3 linked regions of the Homo sapiens genome follow. The protein of the gene in region 3 purifies or fractionates together with the protein of the main gene of each other region. This does not show direct contact. Each region holds a gene or a part of one and is shown on either strand. Other genes may lie near its edges. The genes, in order: SCCPDH, LARS2 and PCCB.

Evidence for each region.
Region 1: the proteins of PCCB (region 3) and SCCPDH fractionate together in Homo sapiens (co-fractionation; one large-scale study listed by BioGRID). This does not show direct contact.
Region 2: the proteins of PCCB (region 3) and LARS2 purify together in Homo sapiens (affinity purification with mass spectrometry; one large-scale study listed by BioGRID and IntAct). This does not show direct contact.

The regions. Positions count from the first base shown.
Region 1 is NC_000001.11:246,755,281-246,758,932, reverse strand, and holds part of SCCPDH (saccharopine dehydrogenase-like oxidoreductase), read right to left. Parts: intron 708-3,652; coding exon 577-707; intron 1-576.
Region 2 is NC_000003.12:45,517,464-45,521,115, forward strand, and holds part of LARS2 (leucine--tRNA ligase, mitochondrial), read left to right. Parts: intron 1-439; coding exon 440-609; intron 610-2,755; coding exon 2,756-2,833; intron 2,834-3,652.
Region 3 is NC_000003.12:136,248,810-136,252,561, reverse strand, and holds the start of PCCB (propionyl-CoA carboxylase beta chain, mitochondrial isoform 1 precursor), read right to left. Parts: upstream 2,223-3,752; 5' UTR 2,187-2,222; coding exon 2,004-2,186; intron 1-2,003. UniProt on the Homo sapiens protein: This is one of the 2 subunits of the biotin-dependent propionyl-CoA carboxylase (PCC), a mitochondrial enzyme involved in the catabolism of odd chain fatty acids, branched-chain amino acids isoleucine, threonine, methionine, and valine and other metabolites.

The sequences.
Region 1 (3,652 bases), on a different chromosome or scaffold from region 3:
CCTGTAATCCCAGCACTTTGGGAGGCCGAGGCAGGAGGATCACTTAAGGCCAGGACTTTGAGACCAACTTGGGCAACAAAGAGAGACTCTGTCTCAAAAGAAAAAAAAAACCAGAACGCTCCTTTCAACAGCCCAACCCTAAATTCTTACCTCTAAACTTCTCACATATGTCCTGCAGTATAAAACTAAACTAAAATAAATTTTTAAAAAAGAAAAAAAGTTCTCACATAAAATTTAGTTGACAGTTAATTTCTATATTGATAGTGAAAAGTCATCATAAGATTCACTTATTTCCTAGGATTCACATGTTTTATTACACACGAAGTACTTAAGCTTATGGTAATGGATTAATTATGTCTTATTTATCTTAAGCTTATGGTAATGGATTAATTATATCTTATTTATCTCAAGCATATGGTAATGGATTAATTATATCTTATTTATCTGTGAAAACAATTCTGAACTTACTACAAATTAGTCTCCAAGCTTTTCTTAGTAACATACTTTATTAATAGCCAACCCAACAACAATATACTTAGACTAGATATATAAAAAATGGATTTTAAGTTAATTTACCTTCTCTTCAATTTTGGACCAATGAGCGGGACAGGTTTCAGATTTGATACATTTCTTAGTTTTCTCAAATTACTCTGATCTCCAAAACCATAAATTGCTGACTTCCAGGTACCATCATGAATGCTCAACCCCTAATAAAATATTTCAAGAGTTAAAGAAACATGAAAGGGTAGTTACTAAAATGTAAAGCCAAGTAACTTATCATTGTTACAAACAATATTTCACTTATATTTGGACAAGACATAATCCCTGATTTAATAATCTTGAGGAGAATTTTCATGACCAGCTAGGGAGCAGTCACATTCATTAGCTTGATCATACCCAATATTTACACCGAGAAGCCCTTTCTTCTCCCCTCCTATCATTCTTTATATTCTGTAATAAGTTATTTAGTTTTACTTCATCAATTTTACTCAACTAATTGACCATATTCCTTCAAGATCAGCCACTCTAATCCTTTTTTTTCTGCCCCATATGATCTGCAGGAATAGCCACCCTAATCCTCTCTCGATCCTACACAAATTCCTCAACATTTCTGGATATGTCCGTGTGCACATTTATGCATACATACACTGTGTACTGTCCATCTCTCCATCCTGTTACACCTGGTTCCCCGTCTACCTCCAACACCTCTTACTCTAGCCCCAAGTTATAGATCTGTCTTCCTACTGAAGTCTTAGTAAAATAATTGTTTAAAACATTTAAAGTTCACTAATAATGATTTGTATTTTAATTGCTTTCCTCAATCCCTTGATTTCTTTTTGGTATCACAGCCAGTACAGAGTCCTTAGTATTTGCCTGATCTTACTCAGACTCTCATTTATTCACTGATTTTTCATCCTTTCATGAGACTTTGGGCTGTCAGTGCCTTCCATTCTACCAATACTCTTTACAGCTTCCCCAACCCTTACCTCTAGCGCCACCGAGAAACGAGTGGCTGAGACCCCAGGAGAGGACACGACCTCTGAATTTACTATCACAGCGCTGGCCCTTTTTTTTTTTTTTTTTTTTTGAGACAGAGTCTTGCTCTTGTCACCCAGACGGGAGTGCAATGGCACGATCTCAGCTCACTGCAACCTCTGCCTCCTAGGTTCAAGCAATTCTCCTGTCTCAACCTCCCGAGTAGCTGGGATTACAGGTGCCCACCACCATGCCTGGCTAATTTTTGTATTTTTAGTAAAGACGGGGTTTCACCATGTTGGCCAGGCTGGTCTCGAACTTCTGACCTCAGGCAAGCCGCCCGCCTTGGCCTCCCAAAGTGCTGGGATTGCAGGCATGAGCCACCGCGCCCGGCCTAGCACTGACCTTTCTTTCCCAACCTCTAGGTGGGCCTTTTAATTCTCTATTACAGGAATAAACTTCATTTATTATATTGATTGTACATAATTGTATTATGTCCTTCCTTCTATGTTGTTTACATTGTTTAGGTCAACAGAGTAATTCAGAAAGATTCAAAACTAATTCTGTCACAAGATTTTCAAAGAGGGATATGTGGGAGGCAGATATGAAGGTACCTTTCATTGTTAATAAACAAAATAAGAGAAACAATAAAACCATCCAAAGATTCAGGTTTTCCTATCTCAGCTTTGATGATACTGAAAAGCAGAGATACCAAATCTAACTTTCATTCTGGTACAGATTTATTTCTTCTGTTTTATTAAAACTACAACAGAACTAAAGTCTTAAAGGTTTGATTTGTTATCTACTCAATCTGAGCCTAGCCAAAAGGGCCTATGTGAATCTCTACAAATGTAAAGATTCCAAACACCAGGAGAAAACAGCTTTTTAAAAATCTAAACATATTTTCTTATACAACTAAGCCATTGAAAAGGAAAAAATTACATTCAATTTAAAAAACTATTTGCGTTTCACAGAAAAATATAGAGACGTACCTAATACAATTTTATTAAATTGTATATTCATGTATGTTATGAAGCCAACGTACATGTAAACATCCAGGTCAAGAACTACAGGTAACCAGCAACTAAGAAGGCCCTCCTTCCGTCCTGCCTTTACAGTAATCAAGAAAAATTCTTTTCTTTAGAGTTTAATCACCTAAGAATTCATCCCTAAACAGTACAATTAGTTTTGCCTGTTTCTAAGCTCTACAGAAATGCAATCAAGCAAGATTTATTACTGAGTGTTTGGCTTCTTATGCTCAAAATTGTGATGTCAGGATTTACCACGTGTTGTAAGTAACTCCTACATTGCAGCTAGCCTTTTGACTTTCTTAATCGTGTGTTTTGGGAAACATTCTCAATTTTAAAAGTACACAAACGTATCACTTTTTCATTACATTTAATGCCTCTTTGTCTTTTTGTAAAAGCCATTCCCAACCGTGAGGGCATCCACAATCCATCTAAACTTGATTTTGGTACGGGGTGCAAAAGTATGAATCCAATTCCATTTTTTCTCCAAGTAGATACTCAATTGTCCCAGCAGCATCTACCGAAAAGCCCCCTTGCTGTTCCTGCCAACTTGAAGCCCGGAGGCCTGCTGGGAGGAGGAATTCTAAATGACAAGTATGCCTGGAAAGCTGTGGTCCAAGGCCGTTTTTGCCGTCAGCAGGATCTCCAGAACCAAAGGGAGGACACAGCTCTTCTTAAAACTGAAGGTATTTATGGCTGACATAAAATGAGATTTGATTTGGGCAGGAAATGCGCTTATGTGTACAAAGAATAATACTGACTCCTGGCAGCAAACCAAACAAAACCAGAGTAAGGTGGAGAAAGGTAACGTGTGCCCACGGAAACAGTGGCACAATGTGTGCCTAATTCCAAAGCAGCCGTCCTGCTTAGGCCACTAGTCACGGCGGCTCTGTGATGCTGTACTCCTCAAGGATTTGAACTAATGAAAAGTAAATAAATACCAGTAAAAGTGGATTTGTAAAAAGAAAAGAAAAATGATAGGAAAAGCCCCTTTACCATATGTCAAGGGTTTATGCTGACTTAATAACAGGTCTTGATCTCCAAGAGTGTCTTTCTGCCTTATTCTCTTTCAAGAATATCTTGCCTGTTCTCAGCCCTTTGAGTTTCCACATACATTTTAGAAACAGCTTGTCCAGATGCACATCGAA
Region 2 (3,652 bases), about 91 Mb from region 3:
CAGCAGTGTGGCTGCAAGCACAGTCATGCTATCCACAAGGTAAGAGCTTGCACCAGCAGGAGTCAGCACTGTCTCCAAAGCACCATGTTAACTCCATGGCATTTTTGTCCCAGCAAGCTTGCTTAATCAAGGCGGCGGGGCACCAGGGCTCATCTTGACCAAGCTTCTGAGCTCATGACCGTTGGTGGGTGGCACTTTGAGTGGCCCTGCCATCCAGTGCTCTGAATCTGGGCACTAAAATGAGATAGAATTGGTCCTGGTCTGAATTCTCAGACACTGAAGGCCAGGGAGGATCCTTCAGCCTGCCCTCAGAGGAATCCATCAGGGTGCAGTGAAGTGTCACATCAATTCACAGGTGTTTTTCTCTGCTTAGTTATACCAAGTCAATCACCCTTATGTTGCACGCTCTCTCTTTCTCATTTACTGATGCTGAATTCAGCTGATGCTCTCCCTGGGGTGCTGAGATGGCAACAACGACTGTGGACCTTGACAACTCGGTTTATTGAGGCCAGGGCTTCTGGGAAGTCTCCCCAGCCTCAGCTGCTGAGTAACAAGGAGAAAGCTGAGGCCAGGAAGCTCTGGGAGTACAAGAACTCCGTCATCTCTCAGGTCAGAAACTCTCCAATTCCAGGGGTTAACTCTGTAACCAAGCACTCTTTGGGAACCTTTGCCTGTGGTCTTTGCTGCCCTCCCTGCCTTGGGTTGGGCCACTGTGGGTCTTCCTTCCTGGCAATGGCGGTCCTTCTTGCTTTGATTGATTGGCCCTACTGTTTTGGGTACTTTACCAAGGTGGATCAACAGTGCATATGTTCTAATGGAAAGAGATGCCCCCAGGAAATGGCTCTCTGATGATGTCTCACATTTGTCCATCCTGGGTCTCAGGAAGCTGCCACTTTCCATGTTTCCACATTTAACACATCCAAGCAGAGAACCAAATCCAGGATCACCCTGTCATCCAGGATGACACCGCATATGTTACATTAACAGAAATACAATTTTAGAGTTGGAAGGGGCATTAAGAAACTATCCTCTGTAGCCTCCTCATTGTACAGATGGGGACAGAGATGATGTCCAGATATCTTGCCTAACGTCACACGGCTAGTGAGGAACTGAGCAGAGATTAGAATCCCAGTCCTCCACATAGTGAGGACTTTCCCACTCAGTTACTTTGTTACACAATATCCATGTGAACTATTGTGGGTTAATTTCTGCAAATCTGAAGTCATTGTAATGGGTATCTGATATCCCAAATTCTTCTTAAGCTGATTTAAAAAAAAAAAAGTTATGCTGATTCAGACATAAAGTTAATCAGTGTCGCTCATCTGCACTCTGATAATGAACACAATGATGCATGGCAGGTTTTTGCCTCTCTGGTTTGTATAACCTGAAGTGGCCCTGGGTCCAGCATGGTCTTATTTGTTGACACTTCTTCAGCTTTATTTCTGGCCTCTGTACCCTCTCTATGTGGAGGAACAGAGCTCCCTGAATGAATGTAGGGGTCTGAGTGATGCCTGAGCGATTGAGTTCATACCACATATTTTCTCCCTGGATTTGGCAAATTCTTCTATTCTGTCAGATAAAAGAATTAGGTTATTTCAACAAGTTGGAAACTCTTGACATCCTTAAAGATGTGTTACTTTTCTGTATTCTTGCCTATAGTCAAAATGGAAAAGCACAGAAACATGAAAAAGCTGACAAGCTGTGTTAATGTTCTTATGTTGACTGTACATTTCAAAATGTAAAATTGACAAGGCGCAGTGGCTCACACCTATAATCCCAGCACTTTGGGAGGCCAAGGCGGGCAGATCACAAGATCAAGAGATTGAGACCATCCTGGCTAACATGGTGAAACCCCGTTTCTACTAAAAACACAAAAAATTAGCCTGGCGTGGTGGCACGCGCCTGTAATCCCAGCTACTCGGGAGGCTGAAGCAGGAGAATCACTTGAACCTGGGAGGCAGAGGTTGCAGTGAGCTGAGATCGCACCACTGCACTCCAACTTGGGTGACAAAGCGAGTCTCCGTCTCAAAAAAAAAAAAAAAAGTAAAATTAACCTTATCCCATATTCTAAAAACCGTCACTGTGAAGCAAAGTCACATAACCAAGCAGAAGTGGCATCCTTTATTCCTGTTTTCTGTTATGTTGAGTTTACCCATCAGTGGGTCCTGCGTCCTATTCATGTTACTAGCATTGCTTTTTTTTTTGACAAAGTCTCACTCTGTTGCCCAGGCTGGAGTGCAATGGCGCAATCTCAGCTCACTGCAGGCTCCACCTCCCAGGTTCAAGAGATTCTCCTGCCTCAGCCTCCCAAGTAGCTGGGATTACAGGTATGCGCCACCACACCCGGCTAATTTTTTGTATTTTTGTAGAAATGGGGTTTTGCCACATTGGCCAGGCTGGTCTCGAACTCTTGACCTCAAGTAATCCACCCACCTCGGCCTTCCAAAGTGCTAGGATTACAGGTGTGAGCCACTGTGCCCAGCCACTAGCACTGTTTTTCTAAGCACCTACTATGAGAACCAACAGTATCCCAGATATGTGGAAGAATAGTCTTAAACAGTGGAAACAGTGTTGACTTTGAATTTTAAAATATTTGTGTAGATGAAACATAGCGATTATTTGAGATAGTAGATATATTTATAAATATCTTTGCATCCCATTCATTTTCCTTTTTTTTTGTTTTGATAATTCAGTCTTTTTGTGGAAAGCTTAAAAGAATTTTGAAATAAGTAAATAATTGAACCTTTACTAATAGGTGACCACCCATTTCACAGAGGACTTCTCACTGAATTCTGCAATTTCTCAGCTGATGGGACTCAGCAATGCCCTCTCGGTAAGTGGCCTGTCCTCATTTGCTGGTAGCAGAGGAGGGAGGGAGAGGTGTGGCAAGGGGCCCCACAGGGTCCCAAGAGGGACAGAGAGCACCCCCACTGTGTCACCGCCTCAGTGTGGCTTGATTATCTTAAGGAAACATTTTTCCATAGTCACAACCTAGTTTTATGCTGGAATGTTCTTAAAGATTTTCTGGTCCAAACCCCCTTCTCCCCCAATATTTTACAGATGAGGACATTGAGGCCCAGGGAAGTTAGATGACATGTCTGGTTGATTAGTGACAAATCTAGGACCAGACTCAGGCCTCCCTGTCTTCTGGCTCTTTGCACCCCCGCTGTCTGATTTCATGAATGAATTGTGATACCTCCTCGGCATCATTACATTTGATATTCATTTAACCTGGATGGATCAGGATCGTTCTCACCAATGCCAAAAGTCAGCCTTTTCAGTATGGACTTCCTTCTTGCTAAGTGTGACTACCATTTTTCTTGCCAGGGAAAGGATTTGTCAACAAATGTTCTTAGCTACTGGACAACAAAAGCATTCATTAAAGCTATTAACAAATGCTTTTTAAAAATGAAGTCCTCTCCAAGCTTTTAAGATCAGTGGGGGCCAGGCACAGTGGCTCATGCCTGTAATCTCAACGCTTTGGAAGACCAAGCTGAGAGGATCACTTGAGGCCAGGAGTTCAAGACCTGCCTGGGCCGCGTAGAAAATAAAATAATTAGGCCAGGCATGGTGGCTCACACCTGTAATCCCAGCACTTTGGGAGGCTGAGGCAGGCGGATCACGAGGTCAGGAGATCAAGACCATCCTGGCT
Region 3 (3,752 bases):
AGTAAGACCCTGTCTCAAGGAAAAAAAAAAAAAAATTCTGTCATCCCAGCACTTTGGGAGGCAGACGCGGGTGGATCACCTGAGGTCAGGAGTTCAAGACCAGCCTGGCCAACATGGTGAAACTCCATCTCTACTAAAAATACAAAAATTAGCCAGATGTGGTGACACATACCTGTAACCCCAGGTACTCTGGAGGCTGAGGCAGGAGAATTGCTTGAAGCTGGGAAGCAGAAGTTGCAGTGAGCTGCTGCACTCTAGCCTGGGCAACAGAGTGAACTCTGTCTCAAAAAAAATAAATAAACTTACACCCTTTGACCCACTAATTCCTCTTCTGGGAAAATCTACGGAAATGGTCAAAAATTGTTTTAAAAGGGGTGCAGGGCCGGGTGCAGTGGCTCACACCCATAATCCCAACACTTTGGGACGCCAAGGTGGGTGAATCACTTGAGGTCAGGCGTACAAGACCGGCCTGGCCAACATGGTGAAACCCTGTCTCTGCTAAAAATACAAAAAAAAAGTTGCCAGGCATGGTCGTGGGCACCTGTAATCCCAGCTACTTGGGAGGCTGAGGCAGGAGAATAGCTTGAACCTGGGAGGCAGAGGTTGCAATGAGCCAAGATCGCACCATGGCACTCCAGCCTGGGCAACAAGAGCAAAACTCCGTATCAAAACATAAAAATAAAAAGGGGTGCAGGAGGGGGTTCATATTAAATCAGCCTCCTAAGTTAACTTTGGCAAAAGAAAAACAGCTTCTGGAGGCTTCATCTAAACCTAGTAGGATCTACCTGGGAAAGGGCTAGGCGATGTTCCAGGGAAGAATTGAGCAATAGGCCCCAACAGAAAGAGTGTACAGGAGCACTGACAGGCCTTTCCAGAGGATGATCTAACATCTCCCTCAGCCCTAACAGAGTAGGTTAGAAGTAGCCCCAGGGGAGAGAAAGCACTCCTAGCACCACAAACCATCACTAAATTTACATTTCACTCTCAAGTGTCAAAAGGAACTGTTACCTTTGGACCCTTGTCAAATGCGAATTTATGACATCTGAATCAATATTAGACAAATATAGAGCTGTTCAAATCTCCTCACTTTAAGACCCCATCCCTCCCCCAGTGCCTCCCTCATGGTTGTGAGTTGTGCCTGAATACTCTTCATCTGTAAGAGTTTCACTTCTGCACCTTCCCGTTGGTTAATTCGTTCAGCACAACGGTCCAGACTCACCCACCAGTCACGGACACACTGGGCAAGCCTGGTTTCAAGTCAGGGATCACCTCTCCAAAATGGGCCGCCCAGCTTATCTCTGAAGGCCAGCTGGATTCTCGCCTCAAAACCCAGGCGGTGGGTGGCAGTGTTTCAACTGCTCAGTCCAGCCAAACATCGAGAGTAGCCTGCGCACTCCCAGAAAGGCCACCTGCTTCCGACACGTGCCTTTGCTACCCATCAAGGCGAGGCATGCTAAGGCCCTAAAGAGCTCGACCAGGCATTCTGCGGGCAGAAGTTCCACAAGTTCCTGCACGCGCACATCCCCCATTTCATGTTAGTGGAGTATGCCCAAGTTCAGTTTTCCTGCTTCCACAAAGGAGAAAGAACCTACCATCACTCTTTCATGGGGCACGAGAATAAGCACATGGTTTTTACTGAGCGCCTATCATTTTGCTATCTATGGTCTAACGATACACTTGTGAAGGAAGAATTATTATTAAAATGACCCACAGAGATTTAATAAGTTGCCCAAAAGCTTATGTTAAGTGTTGAGCTGGCTAGAGACGAGCCAGATCCGTCTAAATCCCAAGGGTTAAACAGTATGAAAAAGCACACAGGTGCTTCTGCTGGTTATACCCGCCTCCACGAGAAACGCTACAGGTTTTCAAGGTGAACACCCTTGCTCCGGCCCCTCCAGGCACCGTGCGGATTGGCAGGGAGGCCTCGGACGCCGCAAGCCGGGCACGCAGTGATAGGTCGCGGACGCCAGGGGCGGGACTCACTTAGGCCCCTCAGGACTCACTCGCTTGTGCTGCGCGTCAATACGGCGTTGGCCCCCTCCCAGCAGCGCGGTCCGGCGCTTGTTTTCGATGCGTTCGTTAACAGAGGTGGCCTGGCTGCAAAGGCTGCGGACCGCGGCGCGGAGACCGCTCGCCAGAACGCTGAGCCTTGCCCCGACCGCCGCCACCCGTAATGCCGCCGCCATTTTTGCTGTGCCGGCGCGTCCCCTACCGGCGCACCTGAGTACGCATGTGCTAAAGCGTGGGTACGGCGCTTGCGCAGCATCGGCTGGCTGTAGGGAGCCGCGGGGGCTGGACTACAGAACCTGCTTGGGAGTAAGGCGTGAGAGTTCGAGACCCGGTGCTGCCCGAGGAGGGTCGCGCAGAGAAAAAGTACAGGGCCTGCCTGGCTGCACAAAAAAGGGACATAGTCCTTGCTCTTCTCTGACCACCTAGACCCTTAACTTTGTCGTCCCACTTCCTACAGAAAATGATTATAAGATTTAACCAACATTTATTAAGCATTGTGCCAGGTGTTGCTTTTTGCACTTACCATGCACTAGCTTACTATCTGGATTTCACAGATGAGGTAAATCAAGCACAGAGAGATGAGTGATTTGATCAAGAGGCAAGACTGAGGCCGAGGTAGGTGAGCCCAGGAGCCCAAGACCAGCCTGAGCAATATAGTAAGACCCCACCTCTACAAAAAAATTAAAAATTAGCTGGGCATGGCGGCTTGCACCTGTGACCCCAGCTACTCGGGAGGCTAAGGCGGCAGGATGGCTTGGCCCAGGAAGTCGAGGCTGCAGTGAGCCGTGATTGCATCACTGCACTCCAGCCTGGGCAAAACCCTGTCTCAAAAAAAAAAAAAAAAAAAAGCCAAGACTGACAATGTGGTTGGCCAGGATTCAAACTCAGAGACCTATCATTAATATGTGCCAGATAATGAGCACAGGACCCTTAACCTCTAATCAGTAGTTCTCAAAGTATGGATCCCATTAAAGAAAAAACTATTCATGACACTTAATTATTCATGTTTAAGAATGGTAAGGCAAACTTTATTCAGGCCCAATCTGACAGAGGTAGGGATAGAGTTTTGCCATAAGTCAGAGCGATTGGGCTGAATATAGCAAAGTGGTAATTTATAGCTAAGGGGCAGTGTGTGGAAGTCAGTGGATGGAAAATTACTAAGAGGAAACATTGGCGGGGAATCTGGCTAAATTGACCTAACAGGATTCCTGCCCAAGGCAGGTCAGGGTAACTGAACATCACCTGGGGGATGGTGGCGGTATGGGTCAAAACCAGATATGGAGAGTAATCAGATATCAAGAATGGAGGATTCTGGCTAAACTGACTTGGCAAGTTTCTTGCTAAAATGGAATTCCACAAGGAATGACATGGGAGCCCACACTCAGGCCTAGTCAAAGAGAGAGCTCAGAAGAGCCTGACCAATGTTTGATCAAGGAGGGAATCTTGTCAATCCAGCAACTTCAGTATCACCTGGGAGTGAGTTGGAAATGCAAGCTCGAATTCTCAGAACTTACTCCAGACCTTTAAATCAGAAACTCTGGGGCTGGGGCCAGCCATCTGTTTTAGCAGATGACCTTTAGGTGATTCTGATCTGCTTGCTAAAGTTTAAGAACCACTGCTCTAGGAATTTGGAATTGTACTGTTGAGAGCTTGACCATCTGTTTCTCCCACTAACAGGCAGGTCTTCAAGACAAAGAACATGGTTTATATTTCTCATTTTTAGCCACAGAAAACTGCTAAAG